2 linked regions of the Homo sapiens genome follow. The protein of the gene in region 1 purifies or fractionates together with the protein of each later gene. This does not show direct contact. Each region holds a gene or a part of one and is shown on either strand. Other genes may lie near its edges.

Region 1 (4,943 bases):
CCTTTCCACTGGAGCCACCGCCCACTTCCCCAGGGTGGCAGAGGACTTGTTGACATGGAACTTCTAGATGCAGCTTCCCACCCCCACTCTGCCTGCATCTTGTCCTGAACTTTGGAAAAAAGCAGCTCTGGAAATCTCACTTAGGGTGACTATCCGCTACCTATCCGGGGCTGTTTTGTTTTGCTGCTTAGTTTGTTTGCTCAAGCAGTTAAAAGCTATGGTAGCCATTTATAGTTTTCCTGCTTTTGTTTGAATACGTCTGTCTGCACTGTACTTCAAGTGCAAATGACAGGGTAAGAATGCCTATGACCTAGGATCATTAAAAATGGGTGCAGAATAACACTAGCTCCTGTATCTCTTCCCTAGCACTTACCTTCTCAGCTATGCTAAAGCAATTAACTCCTCTCTGCCTTGCACATTTAACTCAGCCATTGACTGCAAGCTTTTTCTTTGGAAACCTAAGATCTACATGTGGAAACATATCGATTTGAAATGTTTCTCCACTTACTCTGGCTCTAAGAATAGAAGGACACTTTCAGTTTTGTTTTGTCTTCCTTTATTACATTTTTGCTTTTGAGATACAAACCAACCTCTCATACCACACAAAGAACATCCATTCTTGGGATTTTTAAAGTGCATTTCCCCTTGAACTCTGTGTACAAAAATATTTATCTTTTAAAACATGCAAAAATTTCTTGACAAGGCACTTTTAGGTATAAAATGAAGATGAGTCCTTGGTTCTACATTCACACTGAAGTAATAGTGAAACATCATCACAGCTGCACTCTCAAAGCCCTCAGAGGTCCAGCAGTCTCTAAAAACTCGTCAACAAGACTAAAAACATTCACGGCTTTACAATGTGGGTTACAGAGCTTTACAACCATGACCAGGAAAAACTGCTCGTAACAACAGCTGTCCTTCCCAGTTCCACATGTGTTGTCTCACTGCAGGAAATTAAGATAAGCTGCCAAATTGTCTTTGTGTGACCCTATAAGATCCCATCATCCATGTAACTTCTTGTCTCCGATTTCAGTGAACATGTCAGGAGAGACGTGATCGGGACTCTCCCAGGACTACATTCAGGTGAGAAATTTTAGAAGAGGAAACAAATAAAAGGCAACCAAGGTTTTCATCCCCTATCCATTGAGAGGGAAGATCCAGAAAATGGGCAGTTCCAAAAAAGGAACACTTTTTTGATTGATAAGCATATATGGCCCATTTAATGTCCATGACTACAACTAATGCCTTTTTTCAAAAAGAAAATGGTTTGAAAAGATCAAAACCACAGAGCAATCTCCTAACAGTTCCAAATTTACATCTTCTAAGAATGTATAATTTTGCCACCATTAAAATGAAATCTTAAAGGTAAATTAAATTCTCCCATTGACTCTGACATTGTTTTAATTTCTGGAGAACTGTACAGCTTCATTATTTCTCACCAGCTCCAGTAGAATAATTTTTTAAATAAAGAAACCCACTCAAATGCTTCATGTCTTCCAATAGATACTGAAAGCTTATTTATTAAATATCTTTGTATAATCCAGCTTATTTATTGTACCCAGTTTGCAAATGCTCCTCAGGGCACTTGAGGGAATAAATATAAAACAAAAATGAAGTTGCTTCCCTATTGCCGGACAACTGCACCTGTGACAGGTGGCTGGTCTTTCTGGGGCAACCTGGGAAAGATTCTGGGACTCGGGGGCCACTTGTAACCATAACCAAGAGCTGTCTGAAGGCAAATCTACAAGTCAAGGTGCAGTGAAGTCTCCAAGTAAGAAACCTGTCACCCTCTGAAGTGTGTAGGCTTATCTACTGATGATGAGCTATCAAACAAGGAGAGAATACATCAGCGCAGCTCCCGAGGCCTTCTGAGAATTTCACGGGACAGAACTGGGCCAAAAGGAAGAAGACTGTTTGCGGCAGGAGGGTAGCAGAGGAGCAAGTGGTAAACAGAAGACAGATAGAAGGCAGTATTCTTCAGACCCCCATACATCACTGAATGACAGCCCTGATGAGGAAACTCAGGCAAGTAGAGTCTTTTATTGGAGAAGAAGGGTCTTTGCGAGCAGGTGAGGACTTGCCTTCTGAACTGTGCGGCAGGGTGAGCATCCCAGGTGTGCTGGCTGGGGGCTTGCATCCAGCACCCCCAGCAAAAAAAGCCAGGGTGAGCTGGGAGAAAGACGGGTAGTGGGGAGGGTTTACGGCTGCTTTAGAAGAGATAGTTATCACTGAATTACCATATTTCAAATTTTGACATGGGAATGTCTTAAGATCATTATTAGATAAAATTAAACTGACTTTATTAAACAGAGTCACTTCAGGCCTTTTTCTTATGAACAGAGTGATCCTTAGTCGGGTAACATGTCAATGACAGTGCACTCTGTGCCTCTCCTGCATTGTGGGGAGGGCACTTCTTAAGGCAAAGTAAAATTCAGGACCTGCATGAAATCAGTTTTGCTTCCATTTGAGTTCGATTTATGCTATTAATAGTTCTGATCACCAAATTTATAACATTTAAAGTACTGTCTGTTACCCGATGTCTGGTATGTTTACATAAAACGTGGTTCTGCCCAGTAACAGCATAAGGTAAAAATGTGATTTCCCCTAAAATTATAACATCATGTCATCCTAGAGTGTTACCCACCTGGGAGAGGTACAAAAAACAAAGCATTAGATTTCAGGCTAAGAACAGCCAGTTTTAGGAGTAAGAATTACATCGAATAGCCTTAAGAGCATTTAAAAAGTCAAGGCATCTTAAACTTCAGAAATGAAAACAAAACCAAAACAAAACAACAACAAAAACAACCTAACCCAACCACAAAACTCTAGGAGCCAAGGCACTCAGTATCTGCCTGTTGGTTATGTACAAAGCCACAAATGGGAGGTCTTTTCAAATTAATCTGGAAAATCCAAGCACAAGACTCTTAGCTTGAAAAGCCTGACAACTCTGCCTCCAAATCCAGGCAACTGTGCTTCCACTCCTCTTCTTGCTTGCCTTAGGAAAACTTCACTTTAGTAAGATAAGGCAAAACAGAAAATAAAAGAGTCGTTTAACCAAACTCCAAAAACAAACAAAAATAGAAAATAAAAAACCAACTTCCTACAAGTATACTTGTAAAAATATATTTTTAAAGCACCCCTAAGTAAACACCAATCTTGCCCAAGAAAAATCACAGGTTTGGGGCCTATCTGATAATGACTGTCCCGGAAGTCTCTCTTTTTTGAGACAGTTTCACTCTGTCGCTCAGGCTGAAATGCAGTGACGTGATCTCGGCTCACTGCAACCTCCACCTCCTGGGTTCAAGTGATTCTCCTGCCTCAGCCTCCCGAGTAGCTGGATTACAGGCGCCTGCCACCACACTCAGCTAAATTTTGTATTTTTAGTACAGACGAGGTTTCACCATGTTGGCCAGGCTGGTCTTGAACGCCTGACCTCAGGTGAGCTGCCCGCCTTGGCTTCCCAAAGTGCAGGGATTACAGGCATAAGCCACCACACTCGGCCCCAGAGGTCTCTTTTACAACAGCACTAACCAACAGACTTTAGTCCAATATGGTTAAGAACAATGAATCTCTGAAATTTCAGAGTTGGCAAACGTTTAAAATAACGTATAAGAACTTGGGTGAGGTTTTTCTCCCCTATCTCTTTACATACACACCATAAATAAGAACACCCAAGTCCATGTCCCTGGGTGCTGGTAAAGTGTTCTAGATAGTGTGAATCACAGTCACGATAAAACCATTTTCTGAAGGTTTCGAGGAGATATTGGATATGCAAATCAAATGTCCTAAACACAGCAGAAAAGATGACTCTTTGGGAAAGGAGATTCAAAATTCTCTTTTTTTTTCTGTTTGAGACGGAGTCTCGCTCTGCTGCCCAGGCGGGAATGCAGTGGTGTGATCTCGGTTCACTGTAAGCTCCGCCTCCCAGGTTCCCGCCATTCTCCTGCCTCAGCCTCCCAAGTAGCTGGGACTACAGGCGCCCGCCACCACGCCTGGCTAATTTTTTTGTATTTTTAGTAGAGACAGGGTTTCACCGTGTTAGCCAGGATGGTCTCGATCTCCTGACCTCGTGATCCACCTGCCTCGGCCTCCCAAAGTGCTGGGATTACAGGCATAAGCCACCGCGCCCGGCCCCAAAATTCTTTCATAAAGAATGAGACAAACCAGCCAAGCACGTTAAAGTCATTGAGCTTTCGGGGGAAAAATCAGATTTTTCCGGTGACTCGGGGTAAATGTGGGGACTTAGAAAGCTCCCCCTAGAAGGCAAAAGTAGAAGCTGAAAGTGTCCCCACTCTTGACTGTCCTGCCTTGTCAGAACCCTGCAATCTGTGACACCGCACAGGAGCCAGTGGGTTTTGATGACTGGTGTGTTGCTCTCTGCTGGAATACATCTGTGGGGTCAAGAAGCGGGAGGAGGAAATGCCTGTCTCAACCACTAACTAATTTGCCTTTATTATCTTTTCCTGAACATCAGATCAATTGTGGAAGAACATAAAATGCAAAACATGAACTTGCAGAAAACAAGAGCCAATCCCATTTCTCTTCTGCAGCTGCACTGGAAATGTGCGTCAGCTCAGTGTGTCACAGCAGAGATACACGTGGACGGGGAAGCACAGCAGCTTGCAGGAAAGGCCTGGCTGGCAGAGAGCACCCAAAGATGAACACAATGAACAGTGAGGGTCTCACGCGAGGTGGCTGGGGCTGAGTGGCTTTTGGCGACTGATGTCCCACATCTGAGTGGAGAGCAGAGGAGAGACTCCTCCAGCTTCATCAGCACTGGCATAGGCTTGATTCCCATCCATACCCTTTCCAGCACAGACGTGCACAGACTCTCGTGGCTGCCACAGTGCGAAAGCGCGCCAGCCACCACTGCTCCTTTGAGTGAGACACTGGTTGTGTAATCTGAACCTGGCTGGATTTGCTGTTTAAGAAAGAAGTGAAGA
Region 2 (7,039 bases), on another chromosome or scaffold:
ATTAGAAATACTATTGTAGAAGGCTGGGCGCAGTGGCTCACGCCTGTAATCCCAGCACTTTGGGAGGCCGAGGCAGGCGGATCATGAGGTCAGGAGATCGAGACCATCCTGGCTAACACGGTGAAACCCCATCTCTACTAAAAATACAAAAAATTAGCCGGGTGTGGCGGCGGGCGCCTGTAGTCTCAGCTACTCAGGAGGGTGAGGCAGGAGAATGGCGTGAACCTGGGAGGCGGAGCTTGCAGTGAGCCAAGATCATGCCGCTGTACTCCAGCCTGGGCAACAGAGCGCGACTCTGTCTTAAAAAAAAAAAAAAAAAAAAGAAATACTGTTGTAGAAAATCATCTAGTGTTTCTAAAGAGATCCCCAAGAAGAGGTTCACACTGGCCCATCAGCATCTGGACTTTTATGTCCAGAAGCACTAAGATTCTGGACATTTATGCTGGCCCTTTGGAATCCCAGTACATTACTGATCTAGGAAAAGGCAGAAAAGATCTATGTGTAGGTCAGTTGGAGAGCAAAAGTAGCTGGGCATGGTGGCTCATGCTCGAAATCTCAACACTTCAGGAGGCCAAGGCAGGAGGATCGCTTGAGGCCAGGAGTTCAAGGCCAGCCTGGGCAACCTGGCAAAACCCATTCTCTATAGAAAATACAAAAATTAACCAGGCATGGTGGTGTGCATATGTTGTCCCAGCTAATCTGGAGGCTGAGGTGGGGGAATCGTTTGAGCTCTGGGGGTCAAGGCTGCAGTGAGCCGTGATCACACCAGTGCACTCCAGCCTGGGCAACAGAGTAAGAGCCTGTCTCAAAAATAAAAAGAGAACAAAAGTATAAAGGGTATGCTGTGATAGACCTGGCCAGAGGTAAGATCACCAATTATAAAAGGGATTGTGCAGAAAGAAGGGGCAGGAATTCAGAAGGCTACCCTTCTGTATGATTCCATACATACGATGTTCTAGAAAAGGCAAAACTGAGGGACAAGGAACACAGCAGTGGTTGCTAGAGATGGGGAGAGGGGTTGATTATAAAAGGATTAACTTCAAGGGGTGAAGAAGCTGTTGTGATGCTGGTTACATTACTTTAGGCATTTGTCAAAACTCAGTACTGTCTGCCAAAAAAGTACATTTTATTGTACATAGATGTGAAAAACCAAGAAGATGAGGGAAACGCTGTTTGTCATTTGATCATGGTTACATAAAGTTCAGAAGAGGGCTGAGCGCAGTGGCTCACACCTATAATCCCAGCACTTTGGGAGGCCGAGGTGGGCAGATCACTTGAGGTCAGGGGTTGAAGACCAGCCTGGCTAACATGGCAAAACCCTGTTTCTACTAAAAATACAAAAATTAGCCGTGCACGGTGGCACACCATGTAGTCCCAGCTACTCAGGAGGCTGAGGCGGGAGAATCGCTTGAACCTGGGAGGTGGAGGTTGCAGTCAGCTGAAATGGTGCCACTGCACTCCAGCCTGGCAACAGAGCGAGATTCTCTCAAAAAAGTGTGTGTGTGTGTGTGTGTGTGTGTGTGTGTAGAAATTGTTCAGATAGTTCAGAAGGTTATACAATGAAAAGAAAAAACCTTTACTCCCACCCCAGGCCCAGTCATGTTCCCCAGATGTCATCACCCTTTAACAGCTCACTCTGTATGTGTATATATAGTGCTGTTCTGTGCCGGCTTTTTTACAGAATTTATCTTGGAGATGTCAGCACATCAGTGCACATAAATCTACCTCATTCTTTTTATCGAGTGCATATTTTCTGACGGGGAGTATTTCCTAATTTACGTGACCAGTCTGCATTAATGGCTATTCAAATGGCCTATGCCAGGAGATAACTGGAAACAAGACAGCAATGAATATTTGTATGCATTCAACTTTGTGCACCTGTCTAAATATAGCTGGCCGTAGGACATAACCGCAAGTGTCATTATTGGGCTGAAGTCATACACAGTTTCCATTTTGATATGGATGATGCCACACTGCCCTCTTGGGAGGTCAACAAATTTGTATTCCTATTAGCTGGCATATGGGAGTTCAACATGCACATAGATATTTGTGAAGTAGGGCCAATTGCAGTGGCTTACACCTATAATCCCAGCACTTTGAGAGGCTGAAGTGGGAGCATTGCTTGAGGCCAGGAGTTTGAGAACAACTTGGGCAACATAGCAAGACCCCATCTCTACAAAAAATTTAAAAAAATTAACCATGCAAGATGACGTATGCCTCTAGTCCCAGCTTCTCAGGAGGCTGAGGTGGGACGATCACTTGAGCCCAGGAATTTGAGGCTACAGTGAACTACAGTGAGCTATCGCACCACCACACACCAGCCTGGGTGACAGGGCAAGACCCAGTCTCAAAAAAAGAAAGAAAAAATCCATGAGTAAAGTATAGTTTGTGACTTGAGTCAAATTTATCCTCACTTTCTGAAAGCATTCACAATAGAAATTTAATTATGAGATGAAAATTAGCAAATTATGTGTTAATAAAGTTGGTATTCTGAGGTTTGTGGGGGCAGTTAAAAAATTTTTGATTTTTAAAGTTAATTTTTACAAATCTTGATTTTTTTTTTGGCCAGGCTCGGTAGCTCCTGCCTGTAATCCTAGCACTTTGGGAGGCTGAGGCAGGTGGATTGCCTGAGCTCAGGAGTTCATGACCAGCCTGGGCAACACAGTGAAACCCCATCTCTACTAAAATACAAAAAATTAGCTGGGTGTGGTGGTGTGTGTCTGTAATCCCAGTTACCCTAGAGGGTGAGGCAGGAGAATCGCTTGAACCTGGGAGGCGGAGGTTGCAGTGAGCCCAGATCGTGCCACTGCACTCCAGCTTGGGCGATAGAGCGAGACTCCATCTAAAAAAAAATTTTTTTTTGATTTTTAAGTTACTTGAGGGGTAAATTTTTTTTAAAGAAAGAATGTATTTCATTTTCCTTGTATTTTTAAAATATTTTTATTGTGGTAAAACATATATACATAAAATTTGCCATTTAAACCATCTTAAGTGCATAATTCAGTGGCATTACTTATATTCACATTGTTGTACAATCATCACCACTATCTGTTTCCAAATCAAATAATATTTTTTAAATTGTGGCAAAATGTACGTAATGTAAAATTCACCATTTTAACCATTTTAAGCATACAGTTCAGTGGCATTAAGTAGATTCACATTTTGGGGAAACATCACTACCATTCATCTTGAGAATTTCTTCATCTTCCTAAACTGAAACTCCTTACCCCAACCTCCCCTTTCCTCACCTCCTGGCAACCTCCGTTCTGCTTTCTGTCTCTGTGGGTTTATCTACTCTAGGTATCCATGTATATTTTTTCTGTGTCAAAAATTGCTTTGAAAAACACATAGTGCAAATTGCAAAGATAAATGTGGGCTCTCTTATAGGAGTGCCACACATTTTACATTTTTCTTTGCTTCTGCTTCTTGGAGTGCATGCTGTTGTCATGGAAAGCAGGCATTCTTTGGTAGCCCAGGTTCTGGAACGGTGCCTAGAATAGCTGCTCACTGTGTTTGCCAGATTAACTGATGGATATATGAAAACAGTATACTGCGTGACAACACCTTTGTTATTCCATAGGACATGGACATCTTCCAGCAACAGATCTCGAGAAGACAGCTGGCTAAAATCCTTATTTGTCCGGAAAGTTGATCCAAGAAAAGATGCCCACTCCAATCTCCTAGCCAAAAAGGAAACAAGCAATCTATACAAATTACAGTGTGAGTGACAGGTTTGCTATCTTCATAGTTGACTTTTTTTCCCCTTTGTTCCTAAGTTTATCGTTGAATTTTCTTTTGTTTCAGTTCACAATGTTAAACCGGAATGCCTAGAAGCATACAACAAAATTTGGTGTGTATACCAAACTATCCTTTACTTGGGGAAAAATAATGACTTTATTTGTTAGTTAATTCCACTAACACTTGATAGCATAGAGAGAGATCTTTCATCCCTCTCTTTTGAAGCTGAACATTCAGAGGCTCTTAAACTGAGCTTCATGTGGGATTGCCGAAGGCGTTTTGATTTTAAGCACTCACACAGCTAAATCATCATATAGGCTATCAGACTTTAGAATGTTACCAGACTCTTGTGTTTGGAGGAACTTTGCCAGGCTGTCTAGTCCATCTACTTATCCAGTGCTGGAGTCCTTTCCACAGACCTTCCTGACTGCCTGTCCTGAAGTAAGTTCCATCTCTGGACAGCTCTGAGTGTTAGGAATAAGAATTCACATCTCTGAGTCCTTCATTGATTCCCCTAAGTAAAACTGCCCTGTGAGAGTCCTGTATGTATTTGAACATAGCTGCCATTTCTTCCCAACTCCTCTGTTCTCCAGGATCCAAGTCCCTTCCGCTGATTCTCCTATGATTTGCGATCTAAACCTGCTTACAGAATTTGTAAACTTTAAGACGAAAGGGGAGAACTAAGCTTACCAGCTTTTAAGTTAACAGAAATAGTATTTTAATGACCCATGGTGAGCAAATGTGAAGAAAAAGGTTTTTAGTTTTGTTTTGTTTTTACCTTTAATATCTACTACGTTCTTAAGAAAGCAAACAATTTTGTCCCTATAATCAGCATACTTTTTAGAAGAAAAACCTTTTGTTTTTTATTGTTTTGTTTTTGAAGATAGCTTATGAAATGTAACAATAGCATTGAATTTCTTGCTCATTCCAGCACATTTCTCTTTATTAAAAAATGCCCTTAAAACAAAGCAGATGTTTATTTCTAAGTCTTTTCTCATAAAAATGGAATTTTTCCCTATGCCGATGTTGTCCTGGATTACCTTTTTTGTCCTGTCTTATCACTTCGTCTCCTGTCTCGGGTTTCTGGCTGTCTGTTCCTATTTCTATTTGATGTTGTGCTCTCACTTCACACCCAGCATGTAGAATCACCTTGCTCTTCCAACTTCCCTGTCTGTGCCACTCACCTTGTTTTACTCAGCCCGTTCCTTAGTTCTCTGTGGTGAATCTGTCACCTAAGCTGTGCATTCTTCATCGGACATGTATTTTGGTTCTCTTGTTTCCTTCTCCATCTCTCTCTCCAAGCCTCTCGAGCCCCATTCCCAAGTAGCTTTTTTTCTGACTACCTTTCTGGGCTCCAAGCTATACCTGTGTCTCCTTCCTGCCCTGCAATACATTACCCCAAAGTTTGTCAGATTGATCTGCTTGAGTTCTGTTTTCTTTTTTCATCACGTTTTTTCTTTTCTCTGAAACTTTCAGCAGCTCCCTGTTTGCAGAACATAAAGACTTAACTCCTGCCTGGTTTTTAGGGGTCCCAATAATGGGATTCTGCCCAACCCATCCAGTTCTGGGTACAAGTACTGCCTGCCTTACAATCTCCATTCAGGTAAGGCCAGGGCTCCTAAGAGCAGGTTTGGGGTCCCCAGCAAAGAGGAGTGGCTACAAATCCATGCGTGACTTTGTGTTGGTGAAAAACCTGGGCCCCGTTGCCAGGCCCCTTTCTGGACCCCACCTGAATCATGTGTACTGGGCTTCCTCCTGGGCACTGCCTCCAATGCAGGGTTGTCTATTCCTGCTCATGTCATGCGACGAAAAGGAAATGTTGGACATACATTTCCCTAGCAGAATCCCTCTTTCCCTGTCCTCGATTTTCATTGATCCCATGTTATTTCTGAACATTCATGAGTCACGCATCAGATACATTTAATATCAGATCCTAATTTAAAAAGTAAATGCTACTCTTCCAAAAGTACACATGATGTGGTCACTATACTGGGTCATAAAGATGTATGGGTTTTCAGTTAGTTAGACTTAGACCGTTTTGGAACTTTTCTCTGTTAACCATTTATGTATCCCTGGTCGTATGGAGCTCCAGTGGTGCAGTCGGTTAGCACATGGTACTTACATACCCTTGGTCCTGTAGCCCCAGCATCTGGTGGTGATCACTAGCTAAATATCAGAGTCAGCAAATAGTGTGAACAGGTTCCATTTCTTGCCCTTGATCCCCTTTTGCATCCATTGTTGAATCTGTATGATACTTTTTCATCATAATTTTTCTATTCAAAAAGTGTGCAGGTTTTAGCTTTTCTCTTGGTGTAAAACAGTTACACTCTTCCCTTTGCCTTTCCCTGTACATTAGAATCTATACCATAGGAAAGCTTCCATGGAACCAAGCTCCACTCTGACACCCCTGTTAAATTCATACACTGCCGTGACCTGTCATGGCTTTGTCCCTGTCCCTGCACAATGCGCGGGAATGAATTGGTTGGTGTGTTCGGTGCGAGACTACGTGACACCCCTCCCATCCCCTTGGCCCATTGAATTGAGTAGAACATAATTTATGCTTCGCATTGTATCTTTAATTTTTATTCTTCTGCCATGTTGATGCCCTTGGGGAGTATTGGAGGTTGGAGTCGCTTCCAGACTATGTTGTGTTCCAGCTGTCTTCTTGCTCCTTCCTGAAGGCCAGCTTGTTCTCTGCTCCTGTTACCTCTGCCTGCTGGTACTGCTTGTGTTGTCTGCCTCTGTCTTGAACATTACTTTCCTCCCTTTCCATCTTCCTTATTTCTTCTGTGTTCTTTTCTACTATTCCCCGTCTCTCATTCTTCTGTCTTTGGAACCAACAGAATGTTTTTTGGTGATGTCGTTTTTTTTCCCCTCAAATGGAAAATAGTAGACCCATAGCTCCCAAAATCCTGGGACCTTTGGTTTTTCTTTATCATCATTATACTGATTGAACAACTCTTCTAGATAGTTGGGGTATCAGAAACCTAAGCTTCTGATCAGCAGGGTGTTGGAATACAACATAATTCAGCTAAAAGGTTAACTCCACATGCCGTTTTATCATGATGTTCTAAGGTCAGTTGTTAGAACACAGAGTAGGTGGTCTTTTTCCTGTTACTGATCAGGTGCTGTCCACCTGGTCAAATTTTGCTGGTTGTTTAATTAGTGTTGCTGTTTCTTCTCTTTAAGTCAAGAGGTGTTGCCAAAGATTCACGAAGATAAACACTACCCTTGTACTTTGGTGGGGACTTGGAACACGTGGTATGGCGAGCAGGACCAAGCTGGTAGGAAGCGAAGTCTT

The links. The genes of interacting proteins can lie anywhere in the genome.
Region 2: the proteins of PPP1R3B (region 1) and NIPSNAP2 purify together in Homo sapiens (affinity purification with mass spectrometry; 2 studies listed by BioGRID and IntAct, with this or other methods). This does not show direct contact.

The regions. Positions count from the first base shown.
Region 1 is NC_000008.11:9,135,716-9,140,658, forward strand, and holds the end of PPP1R3B (protein phosphatase 1 regulatory subunit 3B), read right to left. Parts: 3' UTR 540-4,943; downstream 1-539. UniProt on the Homo sapiens protein: Acts as a glycogen-targeting subunit for phosphatase PP1. Facilitates interaction of the PP1 with enzymes of the glycogen metabolism and regulates its activity.
Region 2 is NC_000007.14:55,974,546-55,981,584, forward strand, and holds part of NIPSNAP2 (protein NipSnap homolog 2), read left to right. Parts: intron 1-3,580; coding exon 3,581-3,720; intron 3,721-3,804; coding exon 3,805-3,850; intron 3,851-6,927; coding exon 6,928-7,022; intron 7,023-7,039. UniProt on the Homo sapiens protein: Protein involved in mitophagy by facilitating recruitment of the autophagy machinery required for clearance of damaged mitochondria.